4 separate regions of the Homo sapiens genome follow, and regions 1, 2 and 4 are each linked to region 3. Evidence: fine-mapped expression QTL. A gene starts in region 3. Each other region holds a variant in brackets. All regions are shown on one strand. Distances are between the middles of the regions. Region 1 overlaps IFT88 (intraflagellar transport 88). Region 2 overlaps XPO4 (exportin 4). Region 3 holds the start of CRYL1 (crystallin lambda 1). Region 4 overlaps CRYL1 (crystallin lambda 1).

Region 1 (8,208 bases), 70 kb before region 3:
AGGCCCCTTTCACCTATAATCTTTCTAGAGATTAAAATCCTATAACAAAGTTAGCTACTTATATCAAGATACTCAGCCAATTATGAAATTAAGTAAACAAAAGAATTATCTTGCATTACAAATGAACATTAAGAAAAGAAGACCTGTCCTCTAAATTTCACCTTAATTTTCTATGTATTCTATTTAATTTAGTAGTATTTGCCATCTATTAATCTCTGGAGGACCTACAAAGAATAAATGTGTATCATTAATGCTGCTGGTGATCAAAGAAATAAGCAAGATCGTGAACTAAATATAAATTAAACGTGGAAATATCTTAAACCTTAAAGTCTATCAGAAGAATCTGTATAGTAAGCTCTATATACTAAATTACAATTTAAGTAATTAATTTATAGTAAATTATGTTCCTAAAGGTAAAAAATGATCATCATAAATTATCCCTGAAAGATTTCATGGAATCGTAGAGTATCAGCTATAAACAGTAAGCATCTAACACTTCAAAATTTCAAACGCCCTTTTTTTCCTATGTGTTTAGCATATGAAACCTTTACCCACTGAAAATACACCCTTTTAAACAGAAGTGCAAACATTATGGAGGTGTCTTTTCAGAATTAAATAAATGTTGCTAGAAATTAGAGGCATTAGTTTTTTTTCCCCACTACCCTCATAGAACATTATTTTATATGCCTAAAGTTCTTGAAAATCACTGACCGAAAAGTCTACATTACAATCTCATCAAAATAACCACCTTGATAGAGCATTAAAATTAGTGCTCTTCAAGAAATAGAGCCATTGCATGGTAGGTTTGCAGGTACTTACCAAGTTATCAAAAAAAAAATATATATATATATATTTTTTTTTTGAGACGGAGTCTCGCTCTGTCGCCCAGGCTCTGGAGTGTGGTGGCAAGATCTTGGCTCGCCGCAAGCTCCGCCTCCCGGGTTCACGCCATTCTCCTGCTCCAGCCTCCCAAGTAGCTGGGACTACAGGCGCCCGCCACCACACCCGGCTAATTTTTTGTATTTTTAGTAGAGATGGGGTTTCACCATGTTAGCCAGGATGGTCTCGATTTCCTGACCTTGTGATCTGCCCGCCTCGGCCTCCCAAAGTGCTGGGATTACAGGCGTGAGCCACGGCACCCGGCTACATATTTTTTAATAAATAGAGACGAGGTCTCACTATGTTGCCCAGGCTGGTCGCAAACTTCTGAGCTCACTCAGTAATCCTCCCACCTTGACCTCCCAAGGTGTTAGGATTACAGGCGTGAGTCACTGCACCCAGCCTAAAATAACTAGTTAAATAACTAAAGAAAAGAGCTCTTTGCACAAAACAAAGACAAGAGTGTTTTATGAACTAAAGATTATTATTAATCTAATTGTGAGCACCTGAAGACCAGTAAGATTTTAAAAATAAAAGAAAAAAGACTCTGGAACCCATTAACCCTAGTCAAAATTTTATTTAAAAATTGTGTTATATTTCAATACTTACTGAGTAAGTTAAATCCAAATTGATATTTTCTGGAGTTGTAACTTGTTCTCGCTGTCTCACCAGGACTCTCTCTTTTCTTCCTGCATCTTTTGCCTTTTCTAAGGCCTGAAATCAGATTTATACCTTGTAACTTCCTTTGAGTGTTCATCAACTTTTATGCATTTGAGAAATATCTACATGAAGGTTGGATGAATTCATTTTCTATCCTCAGATTCCTCAAGACACCCCTGTGTGCTCTTACCAGAAACTTCCCTTGGAAAGGGACTTTTTGTTTTTTAGAATGACAAAAAAAGCCCCAGTTCTATGAGTAGTAAAAGCAGCTTTTTAAAGTGAACATTTCTTTCTAATGGTATTCATTAATCCAATAACTCACAGAAATTATATTTATATGATATGACAATCAAAGTAACATGAACAAAGCAAATTAAAAGTAAAGATTGATATTTAAAAAGCCAAGTTAGATTCCCAAAAAGCAAACTAATTTTTTAGTTTACTTAGGAAAAAATATTTGATAGTAGAGAGACTTCAAGAAGAAAACAGCCCTTAGTACTGTGTGTGGCTCATGGTAGCTACACCTTTCAGCAGCATATTGCTATCTAATCCAATAGTCCACCAGGCTGCCAAGTTAAGTATACAAATACATTAGAATTTTTTTCCCTACTGAAAAGGCCAATGTCAAAAATTACAAAACCAGCCAATTATTCTGACATTCAAATTTATGAAACTGAGTTACAATTCCTGGTTCTCAAAATAATTGCTTCTTATCCTAAGACCAGTCAACGGCAAACAAAAATATTTGTCTATACATACGGTGTATGTATAAAAGCAGACATACATCTATAAATGCTTCATAATTTTGAATCTTGTTTATGAACTTACCAATTTTAAGTCTCCACAACTATTGGCAATACAGCTTTCTTCTACCAACTCATTTACTTCCTTCTCTAATTGCTTTATTTTTTCCTCTGGGCTATTAAAGACAAAAGCAGGTACAATTTAAATCATTCAACCTCTAAAAATCTATACTAAAATTTATTTTATTTTATTTTATTTTATTTTATTTTACAGACAAGGTCTTACTTGGTTGCCCAGGACGGAGTGCAGTGGCACAATCATAGCTCACTGCAGCCTGTAGTCTTGACTCCTGGGCTCAGGTCATCTCCTCCCACCTCAGCCTCTCAAGTAGCTAGGACTACAGGTGCATGCCACCATACATGAATAATTTTGTTTTTGTTTTTTGTAGTGACAGAGTCTCCTCATCTTGCCCAGGGAGGCTGGTCTTAAACTCCAGGCCTCAAGCGATCCTCCCTCCTCAGCCTCCCAAAGTGCTGGGATTACAGGTGTGAGCCACAACACCCAGCCTAATTTACTTTCAACATTGAACAATGTGCATTTAAACTTCAAGAATAGTTATAGATAAGACAAATGTATACATGGTATTAAAGAGCAAATGTAGTACTGTTTTTAACAACTACATCATGTAATTATTCATAATAGTAAAATAATAACAACAGTCAAGGTAGGTAACATGGCCAGGCGTGGTGGCTCCTGCCTGTAATCCCAGCACTTTGGGAGGCTGAGGCAGGTAGATCACTTGAGGTCAGGAGTTTGAGACCAGCATGGCCAACATGGTGAAACCCTGCCTCTACTAAAAATACAAAAATTAGCCAGGTGTTGGGGCAGGCACCTATAATCCCAGCTACTTGGGAGGCTGAGGCAGGAGAATATTGCTTGAACCTGGGAGACAGAGGTTGCAGTGAGTGATATTGCGCCACTGCACTCCATACTCCAGCCTGGGTGACAGAGCAAGACTCTGCCTCAAAAAAATAAAAAAAAATAAAAATAAACGACAGGTTCTTGCTATGTTGCCCAGGCTAGAGTGCAGTGGCTATTTACAGGCACAATCATAATGCACTACGGCTTGAACTCTTGGGCTTAAGCGATCTTTCTGCCTCAGCCTCCTGAGTAGTTGACACTATAGGCGTGCACCACCATGCCTGGCCATAGAGAAAGTTTCTAATGAGGTGAAGAAGTTTAAAAATCCTGGCTCTATTAATAGCAAATCAAGTATTCCCAAATCAGTTACCTTTCAAAATAACAGTAATGTTGTTTTGCTACCACTTTCTTTTGGCAAAATACAACAATACTCTGAATA[C/T]ACATCAATGCCTAAATAAAATTTTACTACTGCTATATCAGAATAGATAGTAGTTCTCTTAATTCTCTACAAATGGATTTTATAAAAGTATATAGAAATAAATTGAGCAGCATAACTTTTTCTATAAAATTATATTCTTTGAGGAAACCTGGGACTAAGACTACAAAGTTTATTAGTTTATAAAGATCTGTAAAATTCTAACTGAGCAGTAAGCATAATAGATGGTAGTTTTATGAAGGTTACATGAAGTATAGAATTCTATTTTCTAGTTGTCTGAAACACTTGAATGTATGTCTTAAATGTTGCTTACAGATTTTATTATTAAATTCAAAATATCAACATAGAATTTTAAACTTAAAAATCTGTAAGAGAACTTTATGAAGACACTGAAAGTAACTTACCCTGTCCCTATCAAATGCAAAAAAAATGCAATCTATATTCAGGCACTGTTGGCTACCTACCCACACAGAGCCTGCCACCCGCCCTTCTTCTTTGCATGCAGAATCTAAGCAAGTCAAGAGAATCTCATTCTCTTTGCCAAGTGTTTGGTTCAGCCACGAGCATTTGATGCATTCCACACTGAGAAATGAAGGCATATCTGCTTCAGGTACAGGGCTGCTAGAAAGATCTTCTTGGCTTTTTAAGAGACCTAAGACTAGGAACATTCTGCCTCTAGACTATATCAGTTACATGGAGATTTTGAACTCTCAACACTCTCTTGGCATCATAATGATCGGCAGGCGCTTGGGGAAAGCCAAGGGAAACAAAGAGAAGCTGGACCAGGGATGATGTTACTGAGCAGTTAAATTAACCATCCCCAGAACTTCCCTTCCTCCAGACTTCCTATTATGTGAGATAATAAATTTTCTTGTTAATTATGTATATGTCTTTTTTTTTTTTTTAAGTCTTTCTTTGAGACAGGGTCTCGCTCTGTCACCCAGGCTGTGGTGCAGTGGTATGATTACAGCTCACTGCAGCTACCACCTCCTGGGCTCAAGCCATCCTCCCACCTCAGCCTTCTGAGTAGCTGGAGCTACAGGTGTGTGCCACCATACCCAGCTAATTTTTTAATTTTTTTGTAGAGACGGGGTCTCGCTATGTTGCCCAGGCTAGTCTTGAACTCCTGGGCTCAAGTGATCCTCTCACCTTGGCCTCCCAAAAGGCTGAGATTATAGGCATGAGCCACCACGCCCGGCCTGTGTCCTTACTTTTTTTTAAACATGTTTTCTGTTATTAGCAGCCAAAAGGACCATGAATGACATAATATTTAAATAAAAAATGCTTTTATTAGCTAATGTGCTGTCATTAATTAAGATAAAAAATAACATGATTTTCTATAGAGGTTCCTTGCTAGTCAAAAATGGAAATTATGTAATTTACACGAAAGCCTAAATACTGGGTTTAAGAATTACAATTTAAATAAAAAAAAGAAACAAAAAAAAAGAATTACAATTTAAAAACATATATTCTATAGAAGCAAAACAGTATAGTGACTAATTCCAGTTCTAGTTCCAGAGCCCAAGCTCTGGAACTAGAAAAACTGGGTTTGAATCTAAGCCTTGTCATTTACTAGCCTTAGAAAGTTAAGATAGCTGGGCTTCAGCTCCCCTCTTTATAAACTAGTGAGAATAATAGCTCTGTTTTCATAGGGAAAGTACTTGGAAAAGTGCCTGGCACACAGCAAGGACTCAGTTAATGTTAGCTTTTATTACTATTTGTAAAATGTATACATCAAGGTACTTGGATACCAGCAGATGTATATAATTAAATGTATACCATAGCTTTTTGGCTACTGTCTAGCCACTAGCACTAAATTAAGTTTGTTCTATAAAAAATTAAATTTCTCAATAATATGACACATTAATTTCATATGTGTTCTCTTAATTTTTTCCCTTGAAATGTCCTCTCAAGATAATCATATCTTACAACATTTACAACCCCATTTGGCTGTCAGGAGACTCAATACTGGCCCTGATAAAAAATTAGACCATATCTTCAAGTCATATAATATCACAATAAAATTGCACAGAATACATATGGCTATTCTTAATTTTGTTAGTTCTGGCAACTAGGGATGATTTTTTGTTTACTACTCTGCTGACACAAACTTTTTAAAGATTAAGAATTATGTAATTCTTATGGAATTCACATAATTATGTAATTCTTATGGAAGTCACATAATTATGTAATTATGTGAGCTGGTGTGGTGGCTCACGCCTGTAATGCCAACACTTTGGGAGGCTGAGGTCGGCAGATCATTTGAGATTGGGAGTTCGAGACCAGCCTAGCCAGCATGGCAAAACCCCATCTCTACCAAAAATACAAAAATTATCTGGATGTAGTCGCAGGCACCTGTAATCCCAGCTACTCAGGAGGCTAAGACAGAAGAATCGCTTGAACCTGGGAGATGAAGGTTGCAGTGAGCCAAGATCGCATCACTGCACTCCAGCCTGGGCAACAGAGTGAGATATCATCTCAAAAAAAAAAATTGTGTATTTGGAAAATAAAAATTTAAAATATGCAGCAACAACAACAAACAACAACATAAGGACTTACATACCTATCTTTTTTCTTGGCTTCCAAAGGGGAAGCAGGGCCCCTTGACTGACTAAGGGGGTCAAATGCAGAGCCTGAGACACAATTCAAGAGTTAATATTCAATTTGTAACTCAGCAAAATCGAAGAATATATGAAAATATAAAACCTCGCATAAGCTATTTCATTTACCTCTTTATTAAATGGTTTCAATTATCTATTTATTAAATGGAGATAACATTGTGTCTACATAAACATTTCATATACTGGGAAATTGGTAAGATTTTTAACACACATAAAGCTATGTAAATAATACGTGTGTTAAACTTAAAAACAAAAATAAGATATTCTCAGCATTTACTTTCTCTTCCACAGTGATCTATCTCTATTATCAACTCTAAATTATCAGTCACATGTCTTATAACCTGCTATTGGCTTTTTAATTTTCCTTATTGGCATACCAAACATTAATTTTTGTTATAATTTTATTTTTAAATTATCATTTAACTTTTTACATATTATTTCAATGCATTTTGACAAATTACACCATGGTTTAATTACCACCCCAACAGATATGTAGAAGGTTTTCATCATCCTTTTCCTTTCTTAATGGTACCTAAAATATCAGTGCATCTTATAATCAATGGCATTGTTAGATTTTATTTAAAATGACAGTAATATTTATATCACAAAATGATAAAAGATTAAAAGATCCAAAAAAGATTATTAGTAGAGACAGTGTAACAAACCTCTCAAAGCTGCTTTGGTAAAACCAGCTGCTCTCACTGCTGTCATGGGTCTAGTAACTCCATCCTTTAAAGAGAATGGGAATCATTTATTCTTAAATAAGATCTATCTCCTATGTACAGTTCTGCACATTACACACACCTTAATATAGCCCTATTTAAAAAAATGCTGATTTTCAATCACTATACGTTTACTCCTTACTTCTACCTCCTCATGTATCAATCATGTCCTCTCTCACCTTTACAATTTCAATTCTTTGATGTAATTGGGCTATAGTTTTAAAAAAAATTAATCAGCTTATTAGCCAGCTACTCTCTTACTTTTGGTTGGTCTCTTACATGCCTATGAGAGAAACCACAGAAATTGTTGTAAATGGTAACAGGAAAAATGGGCCCCAGAATACATCATATAAGCAATTATCAGTTCTATGTCCACACCCCAATGGGAATTCATTTGATACCTGAGTAAATAAATCTAAAGAGACTTCGCCTTCAAAGATTTACAACAGTGTAGACTTTAGCCCACAATTTAAAGAATCTGGGTCACTATATAAGTAATATCTTCTTTAACATTTTAAAATAATATAATAAAGTAAAAAAACTTTGGTAGTAAATTCCAAGTCACAAGAAAGGCACAAAATGAACATGCATCCAATAGAGATACCTGAATAGCCCCTGTCATTGGTCTTCCTATTGATGATGCCAGAGATGTCTTGGACTAGTAAACAGAAAAGTTAAGTTAAAAAGATTCCTAAAAATATCTGCCTTAAATGTTTAAACCAAGTTATAGAAGTTTTCTTCATTCTATCGGCAAATAAACAAACATAATTTATTCCTTGTACCTCCTGGGCGTATAGGGTAAAACCATAAAACTATAAAACAGGGAGCAGCAAACTACAACCCATGGTCTTTGTAAATAAAGTTTTACTGGAACATAGCCATGCCCCATTCCTTTGCACATTGCCTGTGGCTGCTTTTGCTTTACAAATGCAGAGTTGGATAGTAGCAACAGAGAACATATGATCTGCAAAGCCTAAAATATCTAGCCCTTCATGGAAAAAGTTTGCTCTTTTTCTGAAACACCACCAAAAATCAAATTTATGAGTAATACACACTCAGGCTAACTAATAAAAGCATGTTTAATATGACACACGTTTATATTATGTACAAGGCTACTTTCTTCACTCATATAAAGGAACATTATAAAGGCAAGTGCCCTGGACCTCTAGGTTCTGAAGATATTTTTTTGACTAAGAAAAGCTATTCCACCTAATTCTTCCATTTT
Region 2 (6,087 bases), 290 kb before region 3:
TTCTGCATCAGCCTCCCGAGTAGCTGGGATTACAGGCATGCGCCATCACGCCCGGCTAATTTTTGTATTTTTAGTAGAGACGGGGTTTCACCATGTTGGCCAGGCTGGTCTCAAACTCCTGACCTCGCAGTCCACCCACCCCAGCCTCCCAAAGTGCTAGGATTACAGGTGTGAGCCACCGCGCCTGGCCAAGACATGATCTTTTAAGTAAAATTTGAAAAATTGAGGCATATTAAAGATATGAGTTTGGGAGTTAACATGGGATGAAAAGATGATGAACTTTTGAGGGAGACTGCACAGTTACAGGCCAGGCAGTCATGAAGAGCAAGAGTTCAAGCAAGCTGCTTCACTTTTTTTTGGAGCATGTTAGCTTATTGGTAAAGTCAGGGTATGAATTCCTTCTACTGCTTTATGACGTGGATTAACTGCATGAAAAGTACCTGTATAGGCCGGGCTCAGTGGCTCACGCCTGTAATCCCAGTACTTTGGGAGACTGAGGCAGGCGGATTGCCTGAGGTCAGGAGTTCGAGACCAGCCTGCCAAACATGGCAAAACCCCTTCTCTACTTAAAAATATAAAAAATTAGCCGGGCATGGTGGCGGGCGCCTGTAATCCCAGCTACTTGGGAGGCTGAAGCAGGAGGATCTCTTGAACCCGAGAGGCGGAGGTTGCAGTGACCCAAGATCACACCACTGCACTCCAGCCTGGGTGACAAGAACGAAACTCCATCTCAACAAAAAAACAAAGGGGAGGGGGAGGGGGACGTGTATAGTGTACAATAATTTATTACAAGCAATAACATGTAGAATAATTTTTTAAAATGAGCCTTTAAAATAATAGCTTTTATTGAAAACCTGTGTGCACTCTTACCACATAAGAACAACTGTTGAGTTTTGTTTGGTGCAAACTAATTATAATTCTAATTTTTTAAAATTATTTTTTAAATGATTTTTATAATTGTAATTTTGTGAAATATTGAAAGCTTCTTTTTCCAGTAGGAAAACAGGTTCCACATGTAAGACTTTGTTTTACTGTGAGAATACTTTTTTCAGAGCTGTGTTTGTTTAGGAATATATACAGATTATCATCTTTTTTAATAGCAATTCATGTCTTTGATGGTGGTAACGTTGTGTAGCAAGGGAAGAAGAGCATCTTCATAGGAAGAAGCATTCTTGATACCAGTGTGTGTTTTTGAAACCCATGTCATAAAGCCACCTTGCTGGGTGGCTTTAGCATGTGAGTGAAGAGACATATTTATGAGTACTCTGACTTGCAGTTAACTGAGAGTCTGTGTTCACAAAGAGCAATTCTGGTATTCAGCCAAGTTTCTCTGTGGCTGCAGAAGTTTCTTGATATTATTTGAGACTTTTTGGAGATAAGAATTTTTTCATTATACCCAGAAATCAAATTATTATCTATTGCTGAACTGAAGAGGTAAGAATGAATGTGGAGATGAAAAAGTATTGCCTTAAAGATTAAAATCCTGCTGGGCTTGGTGGCTCACGGCCGTACCTTGGGAAGCTGAGGTAGGCAGATCACCTGAGGTCGGGTGAGGAGACCAGCCTGGCCAACACATCGAAGCTCCGTCTCTACTAAAAATACAAAAATTAGCCAGGCATGGTGGCACACTCCTGTAATCCCAGCTACTGAGGAGGCTGAGACAGGAGAATTACTTGAACCCGGGAGGCAGAGGTTGCAGTGAGCTGAGATCATGCCACTGCACTCCAGCCTGGGTAATACAGCAAGGCTTTGTCTCAAAAAAAGATTAAAATTCTATCAATAATTGTTCATATTAATACAACAGCTGTTTTATAAAAGATTTATAATAGTAGATGCATTTGAATTGTTTCAGTGAAATTCAAGGAGAATATGACTAGAACTGTATACTCTAGTTTGTTTCTTGGTTTCTTTTATAATTAACCATTTTGAGTTCAGCCAAGTAGGTGAAGCTGTGCAGTATGTTGCTACAGGAACAGAGCAGCCTTCATAGCATTGAGGTATTTTGTATATGCATTTTGATGTATGTGTTGTGTATAAGGGCAATCGTGGTAAATAACAATTTATAAAGGAAGAACCTTACATCTAGTTTTAGTATATTTGTAGCCTAATCTCAAGACCAGCAGGACAAGGTAGTAAAGAAAAAGGTACTTGATAAAGTTTTTAGGAAGTTGATTATAGAATGTAATGCAATAAAATAAATTTGCAATTTGTCAAGTGAGTGAGTGTATTTAGAGGTCAGCATTCTTGATTCAGAATTTAATTTCTCTGGCTTGTTGGGTAATTACTTTGTAGTGAGGTTATGTGACAAAAAGGAAGCCATAAATTGAAGCCAAATTACAGATTGAGAAGTGGGGAGCATAAATTTTGGGATATCTCAGTGATAAGAGGGAAAACAATACTTATTCTCTGGATGGTTGTGTCCGTACAGTGTAACTGTGTAGTCTACCTTGCACCTTCACCCATGAAAGGATGGATTGTTTGAAGATCCTTGCCAACATCCCCACCAAACGGTTCTTGTAGCTATAAAAGAATAAACTGATGATACTGGAGAGAGCAAGCTGGCTGTCCAGCGCCCCCCACCCATCAAGCACATTCATTTCCTCTGCTTAAAAGATAGAATTAAATCCATGAGTATTTTTTAAAGCTTGCACATTAAAAGTATACTTTTTAGAAATAATAACAATAGTTTTAGCTCTACCAGGATATTTGGAAGAAAACTAGTTACTATTTTACCTTAAATACAGATTCGTATTAAAAGAAGTGTTTTAAGAATTGTTTTAATGTTTTAATTCTAATTGGATGATAACCATGTAATATTTCATGACTTGTATGAGTCAGCTCTGATTGTTTAAATCTGCTTTACCAATCCTAGTGCAGAACCAGTGTTAAGTTTCACAGAATTCTTGCACCTTTAGTGCAGTGGATTTAGAATAAAGCTTACTTACTGTTATAACTATTGTTCCATATCATATTTAAGTGATCTGTCTGTAAGATTTTTCTAACAGCTGCAATACTTGTCTACTAAATCCATTTCTCTTGGGGGATTCCAGAAACCAGGAATACTGTCAGCTGCATAGGTATTCTGAAGTTAAATTAATTCTGTATTTTAAGAACTAGCTAGAAAAAATAAAAATAACTAGACGTGGATTTATTTTTCATTTGACATTCAAAGACTTCTAAATTCCTACATTTTTAAGTGGAGAGTTCATGAAGTTTTTTTTGTGACATTTGTGTCACTATATTGTTCCCATATTTGCCTTAAATGATACTTCGCTAGGAAAGAATCTACATACCAATAGCAGATGAATAACAGCATAAACTAATAGTATAGCTCTTTCAGTCTTTAATCGTTCATATGTCCTTCTTAATGTTTTACACTGTGCAGCACAAATA[T/C]TATTTGTGATTTGTTGTTAGACGTGGGGATTGTGCTGATGCCTGTAAATTTTAAAGTTATTGTGAAATGTTTCATTCATATAAAGTACTAGTTTTATGTTATAAAAATATAAAGAATAATGAAATGAACGATTATGTATCAACCACGCAGATTAAGAAATAGTATAGTATATTGATGGAGCCTTTTTCTGTTGTTTTTTAACCTGTGGTTTTTTCCTTCTCCTGTTATTGCATGCAAGTGTTTGGTACATTACTTATTTCTGCCAAGTGAGTCTATAAGCAGATGCTGCTGGTGAACTTCCCAGCCAGTGTTTTGGGCACTTTTTTGCAGCTTCTACAATCTCTGATAGTTGAAGCTGTTTTCACTTCCAAACTGTTGTAAAGAATAATATAAAAGGAACTTTTTGAAGGATATTCTGTAGACATAAGATTTTCTGTGAAAATGAATTGCCCATATTCATCTCACTGCATTTTTTGTCTGTGAATCACATATCTAACACGTTATTTATGTTTACATATGAAGATAATCTTGATGATCAACAGAAAAAGCTTTCCAATTTCATTGAAAGGATTTGGAGTTGTCATGATGATTAGTTGCTGTTCACAGGAAAACAAACTAACTACCTTAGCATGAGATTTAGCTCATATTTTTACAGTACCTGATATTAGATTTATATAGATAAATATAAATATAGATAAAGACTTTTTATATTTTAGAGCAGTTCTGAGTCCACAGCAAAAATTGGGTGAAAATACAAACCCCCTCAAACATGCAGCCTCCCCACCCTCACCCATCAACATCCCACACGAGAGTGGTACATTGTTACAGCTGATGAAACGACATTGACACATCATCGCCATCCAGAGTCCATAGTGTACATAGGGTTCACTCTTGGCATTGTACATTCTATGGGTTTGGACCAGTGTGTGATGTCCATCATTAAGGTATCATACAGAGTAGTTTCACTGTGCTGAAAATCCTCTGTGTTCTGCCTATTTATCCTTCCCTGCCCCTCACAACCTCTGGCAACCACTGATCTTTCGCCTGTCTCCATAGTTTTGCCTTTTCTAGAATGTCGTGTAGTTGGAATCGTGTAGTGTTGTTAGATTTTAATCTCTGAAATTCAATTTGATGTCAAAAAGGGGACAGATTTCATATATTGAAAGTTTTCTTTTCAAAGCTTCATTTGACAGCATTTTCATAAATAAAAGTAACCACTATTTTGGAATTATGTATTCAACATAATTACCAAAACGTAAAAGATTTTTTTCTATGACTAAAGGGTTGCAAATTTATTGCTCTATATACTTCCAAGGTAATTATGGGCATTGAGAGATAAGTGCTGATATCATAATTTGATTACCTTCTCCACCCTGCATTTCCAGATGGAGTAAAGTGGGGTCAAGTAGTCTCGTAAGCTCTAAGCCCCTCTCCAAAGCCTCTCTGGCAGCAGGCCTGACAATACCAAGGGCATGAGCACATAGTGTCTAGCTTGGTCTCCTTAGTCATCTCTGTGCACGTGCTGCTGCCTTGGCTGCTGGGTTTTGGCCAGAGTGGCCATGGAGCAGGGCCAGGGTATTATGAAAAAGCGCTAGGTTAGGTTTCAGTTTTCTGTGATTAGACTGAAAGATTTAGTTGCCAATTGTCAACAACCATATTTCTCACACTTTGCTCGATGAGTTATATTATCTCCAAAAGAAACCAGAAGGCTGTTTAGAAGTCCATAGTCTTACTGTAAATTGCCATCCAATGAGTTGAGGCTCTTGCAGTCTACCTCTGATCTTCTGTTCTAATATCAGAGTGTTAATAGGAGGGATTATTGAAAACTTTTTTTAATAATAGAAAGGCATATAAGACTTTTACTTTTTAGTTATACTTTTATGTATATGAATAATTAAACCACGATAACATGTGTTAGATATGTACCTAAAAAACAACCAAGATAGGTCTTAGAAAATATCCTGCTTTTTTTTTTTTTTTTTTGGAGACTGGGTGAGTCAGAGGATGCTATTCCTAAATTCCTCTTGTGATATGTTACCAGTCTGTTTATTTTGGCAAGATAAACTGTTAAGACTTAACAAATGATGGCTGTAAAGCACATGCTTTGTTAAGTATATAAACAGGCCACAGATGTTTCTATGGAAAGAAAGTATCTTATTCATCTCCATATTCCAGTGCCTGGCTCTTAGCGTTCAATAGATTTTTTTTTTTTTTTTTTGAGACAGCGTCTTGCTCTGTCACCCAAGCTGAAGTGCAGTGGCGTAATATTGGCTCACAGCAACTTCTGCCTCCCGGGTTTAAGCGATTCTTCTGCCTCAGTCTCCTGAGTAGGTGGAACTACAGGCATGTTCCACCACGCCTGGCTAATTTTTGTATTTTTAGTAGAGACGGAGTTTCGCCATGTTGGCCAGGCTAGTCTTGAACTCCTGATTTCAGGTGATCCACCTATTTCAGCCTTCCAAAGTGCTGGGATTACAGGCATGAGCCACCATGCCTGACTGAGAGCTCTCCTAAAGTATAAACCTAGGAGTGGAATTTTTTGATCAGAGAGTATGTAAATGTTCACTTTTAGAAGATAGTAGTGTCAAATTTTTCCGAAAGTGATTGGACCAGTGTATTACGTGTATGTGAGTTCTCAATGATCCATGTTCTCACCAACATTTACTGCCAAACTAGCAGGCATAAAATATGAT
Region 3 (6,526 bases):
TCTAACTTCTTGTCCACTTGAATTTCTGTACAACAGATCTCTAGAATTGGAACTGCTAAGCCAAAGGGTACATACATTCTAAATTTTGTGTATGTCAGAAACTGCAAGGGTCTGAGATTTTCACTAAATTGCAACAGAGGTTCTGCACTTGGATGCTGACAGAAGTCACGAGACTCCTGGATTAAAAATAAATTATCTTATTACAGTAAAAGCAATAGCCAGAGTGACACCATATTTATATGGGTTCTTGGATCCTTAATTCCCACAGGGTTACATAGAGGGCCAGATGACTCCTGTGTTTGCAACGAGCAAGGGCCCAGCACTTTTTGCTTTCTTTTTTTTTTTGAGATGATGTCTCGCTCTGTCGCCCAGGCTGGAGTGCAGTGGCGTGATCTTGGTTCACTGCAAGCTCTGCCTCCTGGGTTCACACCATTCTCCTGCCTCAGCCTCCCGAGTAGCTGGGACTACAGGCGCCTGCCACCACGCCTGGCTAATTTTTAGTAGAGACGGAGTTTCACCGTGTTAGCCAGGATGGTCTCGATCTCCTGACCTTGTGATCCGTCCGCCTCGGCCTTCCAAAGTGCTGGGATTACAGGCGTGAGCCACCGCGTCCAGCCACTTTTGCTTTCTTTTGAGACAAAGTCTTGTTCTGTTAGCCAGGCTGGAGTAGAGTGGCAAAATCATAGCTCACTGCAGCCTTGAACTCCAGGGCTCAAGAGATCCTCCTGAGTAGCTGGGACTACAGGAATGCACCACCACACCTGGCTAATTTAAATAAATCTGTATTTTTTTTGTTTGGTACCAGAAGGATTAAAGTTATAAATATATGTACACATAAATAAATAAATATATAAACACACACACACACACACACACACACACATATATATACACACACACTAGAGATGCGGGGGGGGGGGTTCTCACTATCTCGCACAGGCTGGTCTCAAACTCCTGGCTTCAAGCAATCCTCCTGCCTCAGCCTACTGAGTAGCTGAGACTACAGGCGGCACCAGCCTGGATAAGTTTTTTAATTTTTTGGTAGAGACAGGGGTCTCGCTTTGTTGCCCAGGCTGGTCTTGAACTCCTGGCCTCAAGCTATTATTTACTACTCAGCTTCCCAAAGCGCTGGGATTTCAGGCATGACTTTGCAGGGAGCAGCAAACAAGCCAGTCTGCTGCCCCCATAGCCTCCGGTAGTGAGCAGTCACAGGATGCTCACTCCCTGGGTGCCTTGATTATTATATTGGCTGCCTGTGTAACTGACTACAGAAACTGCTCCATCAGAAGATGGAAGCTTTGGAGCCTTGTATTCTCAGCCAGAGCAGGCGCGGTTGCTCAGGCTAGCGGCTGTCTCAACAATGTACTGTAACATTCCCTCCAAAAAGTCCTCAACATTTAAGCTTGCCTTCTACTGTGTGTAAGTTGCATGTCCGAAACACTCCATTACGGATATGGGAATATAATCAATCCATGTGACTTAGCCAATCTGATGAGTGAGAGATGACTTATCTTCCTTGTGTTACTTTTCATTTCTCTTGAGGTTGAATACTTTACAAATATTTATCGATAATTTGTGAAACTGTTCTTTAAAAAACAAAACAAAACAAAAAAACCTAACCCCTCCCCTGAGATTTCTCTTTCCACGTTCCTGACTCAGGGGAAACAAAGGAAGACTTCCTTTTATCATCTCAGTGTTGGCTGCGGTTCCAGCTTGAGTACTGTCTCCTCTGTCTAATGACTGTGTCATTTCCCGTTCAGCTTGTGCTGTGTGGACGCACACCACTGTCAGGCAATGTGTGATGCCCCTTCCTCTTGGTCTGTTCCGGGCTCCAAGAAGGCCAGGAGTCAGGGCACGAGGGCATTTCCTTTTTCTGATACATAAACCGAGTGCAGAGTGTGCTCCGTGGAGGAATTCAGACGTGTCCTTCCGTAGCGCAGATGAACGCATCAGGTGTTCTCTTTCACTGCTGTCGCAGTCCCTGCGCCCAGTTCGCAGTTGGCGGCAGCGGCAGGCGTCTTTCAGAGACGAATTAGCAAAGGGGACATTCTCTGACAGTTTCTCTAGGGTGCTTTAGCGCTAGAGCCCGTGCCAGCCTGCCCGTGTCCCCTCCTATAGACACGGACTTCACGGTGAATGCTGACAGTCACAAGCGCGTGGTCTTCCCGCTTTCCACCCCCCGACGTGCCCCCGCGCTGGTCCTGCCCCTGCCCACGAGGGTCGGCGCGCCGTGTGTCTCCCGGTGTCTCGGGCCCGCGGCGCGCACCCCACTCAGGGACCAAGCGGCCCTCCCCGCCCTCCCGGTCCGCGCGCGCAGCCAATGGGCGCGGGACCCGCCCTCCCCGGAGCCCAGAGCTCGCAGCTCCGCCGGCGCCTGGTCCCAGCGCCCGCGGCGCCGCGTCCCCGGCCCAACCATGGCGTCCTCCGCGGCCGGCTGCGTGGTGATCGTTGGCAGGTAAAGGGCTCCGAGCCGCGCTGCTGCCCCTGGAGCCCGGGGAGACGCCGGGGACGTGGTGCCCTCGCGTGGGGCCCTCGGGGTGGGCGCCGGGTCGCTGTCCCCGCCCCGGCCTCCGGTCCTCCGAAGCCCTGCGCCCTGCGGCCCCTACGGCGCTGGCGGGCTCGGGGAGAGGCGCGGCTGGAGGGGCTTGGCAGGTGGAGGCGCCCCGCGGAGTTGGGTCTGCTTCCCGGGAGCCAGCGTTGCAGGAGGTTCCGAGGTTGACCGCCCAGGCCGCGGGGCCTGCGGTTCCTGGACTCTGTTGAATGTCGCCGCGTCTGCCCGCAGGTCCACATAGAAGTGCCAGGCACCGTGTTGAATGAAACGAATTCTGGCTGCGATCCTGCGACGACTGTGTTCTCATCCCCATTTTACGAATGAGAATACTGAGACTAAGCAGTTTACCTAAGGTCACAGGCGTTTAGTGACGGAGACAGGACTAGCCCAGCAGGGAGGGTGCCAGCGCAGTCCTGTCGGCGACGATGTCGCTGGAGGCCGCAGCAGGTGTTAGGCGAACATACACGCAGTCCTAATTCCTGGGCGAGGCGATGTTTCCAGAGGGGAGGTGGGGGCCGATGGAGCCCAGAGAGTTTGCTAAGTGTGTCCATTTAACAGCTTAAATTCTGCCCAAACTGATTTTTAGTGTGTGCTTCCCCCACCCCGCCCCCCACCCCTACGGTTACAATCCTTGCTATTTTTGTTTTTTAAAAAGGGGCATTTGTATGTACCTTTCTTTGGCCAGCTGTTAGCAGCAATCTATAAACATGTTAATACTTGCTATTGATAGTTAAAAGCACCTTTTTGGTGACTGCTGTTGAGGTGTTGGCCTGCCCCCGACTCCGCCCCCCATCAGTGTACAACCCGGTGTGGAGACCACTTCCAATGTCAGGGTGTTTCCTTCCCACTGAAGGAAGGCATCAGATTCCTTGTTGTCAGCTTTCTTTTCTCCAGAGCAGTGGAGTTAACTGTGCCTTTGTTCTTTCTGGCCCATGAGTGCCCGTGGTTGAATAGTGAAGGCATATTAAAAAGTGCACTTTGGGCCGCGCGCGGTGGCTCACCCCTGTAATCCCAGCACGTTGGGAGGCCGAGGCAGGCGGATCATCTGAGGTCGGGAGTTCGAGACCAGCCTGACCAATATGGAGAAACTCCGTCTCTACTAAAAATACAAAATTAGCCGGGCGTAGTGGCACATGCCTGTAGTCCCAGCTACTCGGGAGGCTGAGGCAGGAGAATCCTTTGAACCCGGGAGGCGGAGGTTGCGGTGAGCCGAGATGGTGCCATTGCACTCCAGTCTGGGCAATAAGAGCGAAACTCCGTCTGAAAAAAAAAAAGTGCACTTTGTACCAGTGGTGGTAGTTACCTCTGTCTTGCATTTTATTAATAGTTACCAGAGTTTATGTGTGTGTGTATATATATACACTCACACATATATATACACACACAGTTTTTACACGCATGCGTGCGCGCACGCGCACACACACACAATTTTAATAGGATAGGGTCTCGCTCTGTCGCCCAGGCTGGAGTGCAGTGGCACTATCATGGTGGATCTCCACCTTCCGGGCTCAAGCCATCCTCCCACAGCAGGCATGTGTCACCATACCCGGCTGATTTTTAAAATTTTTAGGTAGAGATGGGGTCTCACCATCTTGCCCTGGTTGGTCTTGAACTCCTGGGTGCAAGCGCTTTGGCCTCCCAAAGTGTTGGGGTTACAGTTGTGAGCCACCTTGCTTGGCCTTGTATAGGTCCATCATGCCTTGGAGTAGTGTTATGCATGCACCTAATACATGTGAAGTAAAGTTTTAGTTGATTGTGCAGTTATCTGGCTGTGGGTGGCTCAGTCTACTGAGGAGGAGCTTCAGTTAACAGTTTACTTCTGATTCCTTGAGGGATGTTGATAAGGAATTAGAGAAAGGCTTCCAAACTTTAAGGACCACATAATTCTCTGGGGCCTCTGCTTGTTTCTTTGTTTTCTGGTGTGAAAATCTTGTCTTTCCCCCACCCTCAGCACTTCAGCACACACCCAGCTCTGCCTCTGGGACAGTGCTGGTTTCTTCCCTTCCTCTTTACCACCCTTCTTTCTCGTCCCTCTATTTCTTTCCTGGCCCCACAGGTGATTCCAAGGAACACCCACTTAACAAATAGGGCTTGGGGAATGTCAATTAATTTGCCAAAACCTGGTTCAGTTTCATTCTTAGGTTTCAACAGACCAAAATATACATATTTCAATTTCAGGAGCATATTGTGTTTTCAGCTTTCCTTATCAGTTTATAGATTTCATCTTGAAAGTACCTGCTAGGAATACAGTCCCACTTAATTCTTTTCCGCTGATCTTTTTCCAAAGTTCACTCTTCCTTAGGGCCACTTAGCTGTCCTATAAACATCCAGGGCAAGTCCCTTCAGAATGGGGAGGGCTTGAAAGAGGATGAGAGAAACTCTTTTGGGCCTAGGGCTGCAGGAAAATCTGGTAGTGATAACTTTTAAAAATGGGAGTAGAAGTCCAGGCATGGTGGCTCATGCCTGTAATCTCAGCACTTTGGGAGGCCTAGGAGGGCAGATCACCTGAGGTCAGGGGTTCGAGACCAGTCTGGCCAACATGGCGAGATCCCGTCTCTACTAAAAATACAAAAATTAGCCGGGCGTGGTGGTGCATGCCTGTAATCCCAGCTACTCAGGAGGCTGAGTCAGGAGAATCGCTTGAACTCAGGAGGCGGAGGTTTCAGTGAGCCAAGATCACACCACTGCACTCCAGCTGGGGGATAGAGTGAGACTCCATCTCAAAAAAAAAAAAAAAAAAAAAAAAGTAGAAATGGGTATCATGAAGATAAATTTGCATTGGAGTAGTGTTCTAAGGCTTTCATTTTGTTAGCCTTACCTTTATAAAACACTGTGTTTCTAAATCGCTAAAATATGAGTTCTGTATTTGTATACACACTGCAAGATTCAGCTTGTAGCCCTTGAGCTTGTTTAGAATAGGAACACAAAATGTTCCTGGTGCAGGGCATGCCCTTTCTCCTGTCCTGCTTTTTAGGGGGCACACTCTTTCAGGATCAAGCTCAGGGACTGTCTCCTCCAGGAAAAGTTCTGCTTCTGGGCCTTTCCCCTAAGGATAGAAACTGTATTGTTGCCATTTGTATCCACCATGCGTGGTCCCAATAGACAGATAGTTGAGCGTTTGTAACAGAGACTGCTTATTTTTTAACTGATGTGCCCTATGAAGGGCTTGGTAGGACGTTGTTTTATATCAAGAAAAACATCCCATAAACTAGAAAGGCAAGAAAGAAAGGTATCCTATAAACTACAGTCTCCTTCATTTTTTTTAATTCCAAAATTTTGTTTGGGGTGATTGTACTTTTTTTTTTTGAGACGGATTCTTGCTCTGTCAGGCTCAGGCTGAAGTGCAGTGGCACCATCTCAGCTCACTGCAACCTCTGCCTTCTGGATTCAAGCAATTCTCCTGCCTCAGCCTCCCAAGTAGTTGGGACTACAGGCACGAACCACCATTGCTGGCTAATTTTCGTATTTTTAGTAGAGACAGGGTTTCTCCATGTTGCCCAGGCTGGTCTCGAACTCCTGGCCTCAACTGATCCGCCCACCCTAGCCTCCCAAAGTGCTGAGATTACAGGCGTGAGCCACTACACCTGGCCTGTGCATTTTTTATAAGAAACTTTCTGAGGCATGAATTTTCTTTGAAGTGCTATTCTAGGTATTTTCCTGCTAATTTTTGTACACATACACAGCAAACCCTAGGATGCCCTCCTTGCCTTTTGAGTCAGCTTAGACACTAAATGTGCCCTTCGCAGGAGTTACTTAATAGCTCTTTCTGGCAAAATTTCCATAGTAGACTGAGATCATGAGTGTAGGAACAGTTTTACTTCAATTTTTACCCAGTAAATAAGTAACTGTAGCTGGAAAGATACTTTCAAATGTATCTAAAGTGAATTTATTCAAAATTAAGTGACATTAATGATAGAATTGAAGCAATTATATCACTTTTCTCCCCTGCTGCTTTGCTACTGTGTAACAGAATAA
Region 4 (7,438 bases), 40 kb after region 3:
TCTCAATTTGCTAAAAATTCATTAAACAAATGTGTGTCACAACAGAACACAAGGAGAGGACTGTTTTTCAACTTCTTATCTCTTTCTAATATATTATCCTCTATCTCTTGATATGGTGAAGTTTGTATGAAGTTGAAGGGACTTTAAAGAGACCTGAGGGCTCCTAATGAGTTCCCAGTGCCACCTGTTTCTACCCGTAGTTGCAGGTGCTATAAGAGGAGTTGCTTCTGAAGAGCACAGATGTTCTCCAGGCCTGGTCTTGGCAGAGTTGCTTCTGAAGAGCACAGATGCTCTCCAGGCCTGGTCTTGGCAGAGAAGCTTCTTTCACATGAATTTAGTTTTATTTTTTATTTTTTTGAGACAGAGTCACTCTGTTGGCCCAGGCTGGAGTGCAGTGGTGTGATCTCGGCTCATTGCAGCCTCCACTTCCTGGATTCAAGCGATTCTCCTGTCTCAGCCTGTGGAGTGGCTGGGATTACAAGTGTGCACCACCACACCCAGCTAATTTTTGCAGTTTTAGTAGAGACAGGGTTTCACCATGTTAGCCAGGCTGGTCTCAAACTCCTGACCTCAAGTGATCCGCTGGCCTTGGCCTCTCGAAGTGCTGGGATTACAGGCGTGAGCCACGGTAAACTGCATGAGTTAAGTTTTTTTTGCTTTTTGTTTTTTGTTTTTTTTTGAGATAGAGTCTCGCTCTGTCACCCAGGCTGGAGTTCAGTAGTGTGATCTTGGCTCATTGCAACCTCCGCCTCCTGGGTTCAAGCGATTCTTGAGCCTCAGCCTCCCAAGTAGCTTGGATTATAGGCATAAACCACTGTTCCCAGCCGTGAGTTTAGTTTTTAAGGAAAGTATTTAGTTATATAATGTGATTGAAATATTAATAAGTGATCTATTATTATAATATTTCTACTTTCACATTTCACAGAATGCTTTTGTTCAAACTCTGGGCTGATATCTCCAACTTCAGCATGTTTGTCTTCATTACAATCACTTTTTGAGTCTCTCTGAACAGAGTTCCCAGACCATGTTACCTTTGCCTCTTGGAGATGTTTGCTATGCAGAGCTTTTTGAACCCATCTACAATGCTGGCACTGCAAATTTTATCCCCAGCCTCAAAGACTAATTCTCAAACATTTAGATGTTTTTTCCTTTTGTAATAATACACTTGTGATTCCATAGCATGGCAACTTGCTGTGCTTTTTTTTTTCTTTTAAAGAATCTTTCTATAGCTACTTTATAAATTTCCTAGCAGTAACAATTGTAAAGTCATCCCCTAGGAATAATTCATCTATCCATGTTAAATTTCTTTGTCTCCCCATCCCATTTTTTTGATAGTTTATCATATGATTTCTATAAACATCCAAAACTACCCTAACTGAATTAGTTCTGGTTAATGTGTCTCCCTCAAAGAGTATATTGTTTTTTATAAAGTGGTGAACCCTCCATAATATGAGAACATTATAATAGACTTGGGTAATAAGGCAAGTTTTTCTGTTAAAGAGTAATTTGGGGGGAATATGTGAATTTAGAAGGCATGTAAAGCACTTACATAGTACTTGGCACACAGAAAATGCTCAGGAAATGGTAATTATTTTATAATGTGGCCATTTATAACAATTTTGGTAATAAAGAATGACATGGGGCAGTATATGGCGTTCTGTACATGGTTGGCACTAGTGAAAACTGCTCTTTAACTACAGTCTATCTTTATTTTATAGATTAAATGAGTGTATTTACAAGGCATGACATGTTGAGCCATATCTATTATGTAGAACACAGAGCCAAGCCGGATGAGGAGAGGAAACTAGAGAAAGATGATGTAAACTAGTAGGTTTAATTCCTATGAGAGTTTATATTCTTCAGAAATTGTTGTACCTCCAGTACCAGAGAAAGGAGTGGGTAGGAATAGTTCTGACCGGGAGGCTTCGGGAAGGTTTAATGCAGGTAGGATTAGAGCTTGTCTTGACTTTTGACAAGTGGATTTTGGGGTGGGGGTGGGAGGATTGTGTGGGAGGAAGAGATGAATGAGATGAGAAGTCCCTTTGAGGATGTTTCTAAGGCCACGTTACAGACCCATTGGAAAGGTAGGAAAGGCTGGTCCAAGGTGGAAACCAAGTCGCCATGCTACGAATGCCAACCTGAAGAATTACTTAGGTGAATTGAGTAATACACAGTGCTTAGAGGAGTACACGAAGAGAAGCACCATTTATGTGTTTCTTTAAAGAAATAAAGATGAAGGCTGGGTGTGGTGGCTCACGCCTGTAATCCCAGCACTCTTGGGAGGCTGAGGGTGGCGGATTGCTCGAGCTCAGGAGTTCAAGACCAGCCTGGCCAATATGGTGAGACCTCATCTCTACTGAAAATACAAAAACTTAGCCGGGTGTGGTGGCATGTGCCTGTGGTCCCAACTACTTGGGAGGCTGAGGTGGGAGGATTTCCTGAGTCTGGGAGGTGGAGGTTGCAGTGGGCCGAGATCAGGCCACTGCACTCCAGCCTGGGCAACTGGAGTAAGACTCCATCTCAAAAAACAAACAAACAAACAAAATATT[A/G]TGAGACCTGAAGAAAAAATAATTATAAAAAAAATAAAGAACTAAAGGGTTTGGATTTCAATCTAAGTCCTGATTAGAATCCTGCAAGGAAGGTATTTAGTAGGAGAATGAAATGAATCAGAAGGAAAGATGAGTAAGAAAAAAGAATCAGCAGTTCATTTTTGCCAGTTAACTGATTTTCTTGGGCATGTTTACACATTTCTTTTCTTTTCTTTTCTTTTCTATCTTTCTTTTTTCTTTGAGATGGAGTCTGGCTCTGTTGTCCAGGCTGGAGTGCAGTGGCGTGATCTCAGCTCCCTGCAACCTCCACCTCCTGGGCTCAAGGGATTCTCATGCCTCAGCCTCCTGAGTAGCTGGGATTACAGGCATGTGCCACCACACATGGCTAATTTTTTGTGTACATTTTTTAATAGAGATGGGGTTTCACCATGTTGGCCCGGCTGCTCTCTAACTCCTGACCTCAAGTGATCCACCTGCCTCCACCTCCCAAAGTCCTGGGATTACAGGCATGAACCATTGCGCCCAGCCTACACATTTCTTTATATGATGTAAAGCAAATTTAATCCTCTGAATTTTAAAACTAGTGCATAGGCTGGGCGTGGTGGTCCACACCTGTAATCCCAGCACTTTGGGAGGCCAATGTGGGCAGACTGCCTGAGCTCAGTAGTTCAAGACCAGCTTGGGCAACATGGTGAAACCCCATCTCTACTAAAAATACAAAACATTAGCCAGGCGTGGTGGTGTATGCCTGTAATTCCAGCTACTTGAGAGGCTGAGGCATGAGAATCACTTGAACCCAGGAGGTAAAGGTTGCAGTGAGCCGAGATGGAGCCACTGCACTCCAGCCTGGGCGACAGAGTGAGACCTTGTCTCAACAACAACAACAACAACAACAAAACCTAGTGCATATTAGTGTCTCAGGTTTACCAAACAAACAAGTAAATGAAACCCCCAGAGTGAAACCTACCTAATGCTGCCCCACATGTTTGTTAAAGTACATTAGTGTTTCTAACACAATGTAATGTTAAACATGTATCTTACCTAATTAAACATCTCTGTGTTGTAAAGAAAGTTTAGGACAATCCTGTTTAGGTTCATTATTCCAAAAATACTGAAGATTTTTGTGTATTTATATGTTTCCACTTCTCCTGTTTATTTTCTCTCTTTCTAATACATTTGAGATTATACTGTAAATAGAATTTTGCATCATGGTTTTTATTTAAAACTTAGAACATTTCCTGCTGTACGATGTGCTCGGGGCTGTATCAGAGAGAAGTGGCACAATCTTGGCTCACTGCAACCTCTGCCTCCTGGGTTCAAGCGATTATCGTGCCTCAGCCTCCCAATTAGCTGGGATTACATGCATCTGCCACTACACCCAGCTGATTTTTGTATTTTTAGTAGAAACAGGGTTTCACTATGTTGGCCAGGCTGGTCTCGAACTCCTGACCTCAAGTGAGACATATAATTTTTAGACTTAAAAAATTGTGATAGTCACCATTTGATGGCAAACCTGAAAGAAGCTTCCGTCTAAGAATTCCATTAAAGCTGAGGTTCCCAAAGTCCGCAGCCTCTGCCGGGCTGCAACCACTCATCTGCTGGCAACCACTCACCCGCCCTGTGGTGCTGCCTCATCTCAGGGTCCACAGACTTTTTGCCAGTGGCACCCTCTTAGCAGCTCTCACAGCTCCTTTTTCTGATTTATACAAGGGAAGGTTCTCAGTGTAGAAAAATCAATCTAGGCTACTTGGAGACAGTTTTCTTTTTTTAAAAAAAATTAATTGCTGTATTTTGGCCAGGCGCGGTGGCTCACGCCTGTAATCCCAGCACTTTGGGAGGCCAAGGCGGGCAGATCACGATGTCAGGAGATGGAGACCATCCTGGCTAACACGGTGAAATGCTGTCTCTACTAAAAATACAAAAAATTAGCCAGGTGTGGTGGTGGGCACCTGTAGTCCCAGCTACCCGGGAGGCTGAGGCAGGGGAATCACTTGAACCTGCGAGGTGGAGGTTGCAGTGAGCCAAGATCGCGCCACTGCACTCCAGCCTGGCGACAGAGCGAGAAGAGGGCTGGATGTGGTGGCTCATGCCTGCGATCCCAGAACATGGGGAGGCCACAGCGGGTGGATTACTTGAGCTCAGGAGTTCGAGACCAACCTGAGCAACATGGTGAAACCCCGTCTCTACCAAAAATACAAAAAATTAGCATGGCATGGTGGTGCATGCCTGTGGTCCCAGCTGCTTGGGAGGCTGAGGTGGGAGGATCACTTGAGCCCAGGAGGTGGAGGTTGCAGTAAGCTGAGATCCCGCCACTGTACTCCAGCCTGGGTGATAGAGTGAGACCCTGTCTCAAAAACAAACAGACAAACCAAAATAAAAGAAAGACTGTACAGAGCTCTTTTAGAATGATGATGTGGTACGTTACAGTCCAAGTGAGAAAGCTGACTTCATGTTGATGATATGGTCAGTCCAGATGGCGTGAACCCAGGAGGCGGAGCTTGCAGTGAGCCGAGATCGCACCACTGCCCTCCAGCCTGCGCGACAGAGTGAGACTCCGTCTTAAAAAAATAATAATAAATAAAAAATTACTTGCTGTATCTTAATTGTACATATTTGGGATTCATGTGTGATTGATTTGTGTGTTCAGTGTGTCATGGTAAAATCCCGGTGTATTAGGATATCCAGAACCTCACACGTTTATCTTTTATTGTGTTGGGAACACTATAAATCTTCTATTTTGAAATATATAACATTATTAACTCTAATTTCCCTACTGTATTATTGAATGCTAGACCTTGCTCCTTCTAGCGAACTGTATTTTGTACTCATTAACCAGCTTCTCTTCATCGCTCCTTCCCCTTCCTGGTAACTGCCGGCTGCGGGTGTCCACCATTCTACTCTCTACCTCCATGAGACCCACTGCTTTAGCTCCCCTACATGAGTGAGAACATGGGATCTTCGCCTTTCTGTGCCTGGCTTACTTCGCTTAATATAATGATCTCCAATGCCATCTATGTTGCTACAGTTTTCTTATAAAATATGTTGCTGTGGTTTTCTTATAAAAAGAAAATTATTACTATTTAGGGAATTGTTCACAAGCAGGAGGCAGAGTTTGAGGAGACGCGTGTGTGCGTGCGCACACACACGCGCGCACACACACACACACACAGACTGCTTGCCACAATGCTTCAACTAAAAATAATCCCACTGTCGGATCTGCCCAGCCCCAGGGGGCGAAGCCCAGTAATGGGAGTGTGGTTTTCCCCAGTGGATTGTTTTCTACCCAACCCTAGAGGGCGGGGAGCCTGGGTCAGGACGTTTCCTAATACTCTGCTGAAATCCGGGAGCACGCAAGAAAGAAACCTGAATTTCTAGAACTTAGTGCAATTTTGAAATCAAATCTTGCCTGGCAAGAAAACCTACTGTTCTGGAAAAATAAGTTTACTCTGAAAAGCTGGTCTCAAGCCTTGACTTTTAAAGCACATTAAAGCTCATTAGCCACTATGTCGAGGCCTTATCTAATCTCTGGAACTTAAAACCGGAGATCACAGTAGCTGGTGGGAGCCATGGGAATGATTTATAGAGTTACGAAGTTTAAATGGGGTTTCCTTACACAAAGTCAGAACAATCTGCAATAGCTGAAATCGAGAAGTTAAATGGATATTGTCTATGTAGATGATCAGAATTTGCATCTCAACTATATCTTTAAAATGGAGAGAATGCTAATCATTTTGAAAAGGACCTTCAGACACTGTCAGTAATTACAGGAAGTAGCGTTCTTTTGGAAATTTATTTGTTTTCTTAAAGGATTGTTGGACTTTCAGTCTTGGTTCACTGAGACTCAGAATATTTCTTCTTTTGGTAGAGATGGGTGTGGGGGTGGGGGGTTCAGGCAGCATTGGACACATGGGATGGCCAGCCCTGAGAATATTCGGGAATGTGCGAGGAAACTGGAGTTACACTTTTTCTGTTGTATGTGTTTTTTCTTTTTCCTTTCGAGATGGAGTCGCACCTTTGTCACCCAGGCTGGAGTGCAGTGGTGCGATCTTGATTCACTGCAACCTCTGCTTCCCGGGTTAAAGCAATTCTCCTACCTCAGCCTCCCAAGTAGCTGGGATTATAGGCGCCCACCACCATGCCGGGCTAAGTTTTGTATTTTTAGTAGAGACGGGGTTTCATCATGTTGGCCAGGCTGGTCTTGAACTCCTGACCTCAGGTGATCTGCCCGCTTCGGCCTCCCAAAGTGCTGGAATTACAGGAGTGAGCCACCACGCATGGCCATACGTGTTTTTTTCTTTAAAAACTGTAAAATCAGGTTTACAAAGATATAATTTCCATACAAGAAAATTCACTCGTTTCAGGGTTCAGTGCTATGTGTCTGACAGATGCGTACAGTCACGTATGAAATCAGCGTCACAGCTGGGGTTCAGAGCATAGAGCCTCTCCTTCCCTTTGCAGCTAATTTCCTCCCACCGTTCCCCAGGCCTTGCCCACCACTGATCTGTTCTTTGTCCCTATAGTTTTGCCTTCTCCAGAATGTTATGTAAAATGGAATCATACATGATGCAGCCTTTTGAGTTTGGTTTCTTTCACAGAGTAAAATGAATTTGACGTGGCTTGTGTGGTTGTGTTGATTGGTAATTTGTTGCTGAGTGGTATGACATTACTAAGGTGCGTGGGACTCTGGATGGACTGGGGCAAGCCCACCTCACACACTCACGAGATCATCTGGAAGCACGAGCCTTCAGTTTTCACTTGCGAAGTGTGAAAACATTCTGTCCTAATGTTCTACTAGCTTCCTGCCACAGCCCTTACTTTTCTGATGGCTTGCTCTTGCTTTATTCAAATAGTGTGCTTACAGAACTGGGCACGAGGTCTTATTTCTGTGA

What was found. PIP is the estimated chance that this variant, and not a neighbour inherited with it, causes the effect.
Region 1: its variant is the best candidate, but not a certain one, in a credible set for the expression of CRYL1 in whole blood (INTERVAL, PIP 0.86).
Region 2: its variant is the best candidate, but not a certain one, in a credible set for the expression of CRYL1 in visceral fat (GTEx, PIP 0.85).
Region 4: its variant is the best candidate, but not a certain one, in a credible set for the expression of CRYL1 in whole blood (TOPMed, PIP 0.78).

Annotation. Positions count from the first base shown.
Region 1 is chr13:20,590,400-20,598,607 of GRCh38, reverse strand. It overlaps IFT88 (intraflagellar transport 88), which reads right to left. Exons shown (of 26, transcript NM_006531.5): 5 at 7,588-7,641; 6 at 6,927-6,990; 7 at 6,204-6,273; 8 at 2,368-2,458; 9 at 1,489-1,593. Among named protein-coding and RNA genes, the nearest start is that of IFT88, 27 kb to the right of the region's middle. The variant C/T (reference allele first, on the strand shown) is at 3,644.
Region 2 is chr13:20,813,483-20,819,569 of GRCh38, reverse strand. All of the region lies in intron 9 of XPO4 (exportin 4), which reads left to right. Among named protein-coding and RNA genes, the nearest start is that of EEF1AKMT1, 43 kb to the right of the region's middle. The variant T/C (reference allele first, on the strand shown) is at 3,394.
Region 3 is chr13:20,521,683-20,528,208 of GRCh38, reverse strand. CRYL1 (crystallin lambda 1) reads left to right here and starts at 2,352. Exons shown (of 8, transcript NM_015974.3): 1 at 2,352-2,455. The coding sequence starts at 2,415. RefSeq lists an enhancer at 1,837-1,946 and a silencer at 2,127-2,676.
Region 4 is chr13:20,481,020-20,488,457 of GRCh38, reverse strand. The region is part of intron 3 of CRYL1 (crystallin lambda 1); the gene reads left to right. Among named protein-coding and RNA genes, the nearest start is that of CRYL1, 41 kb to the left of the region's middle. The variant A/G (reference allele first, on the strand shown) is at 2,550.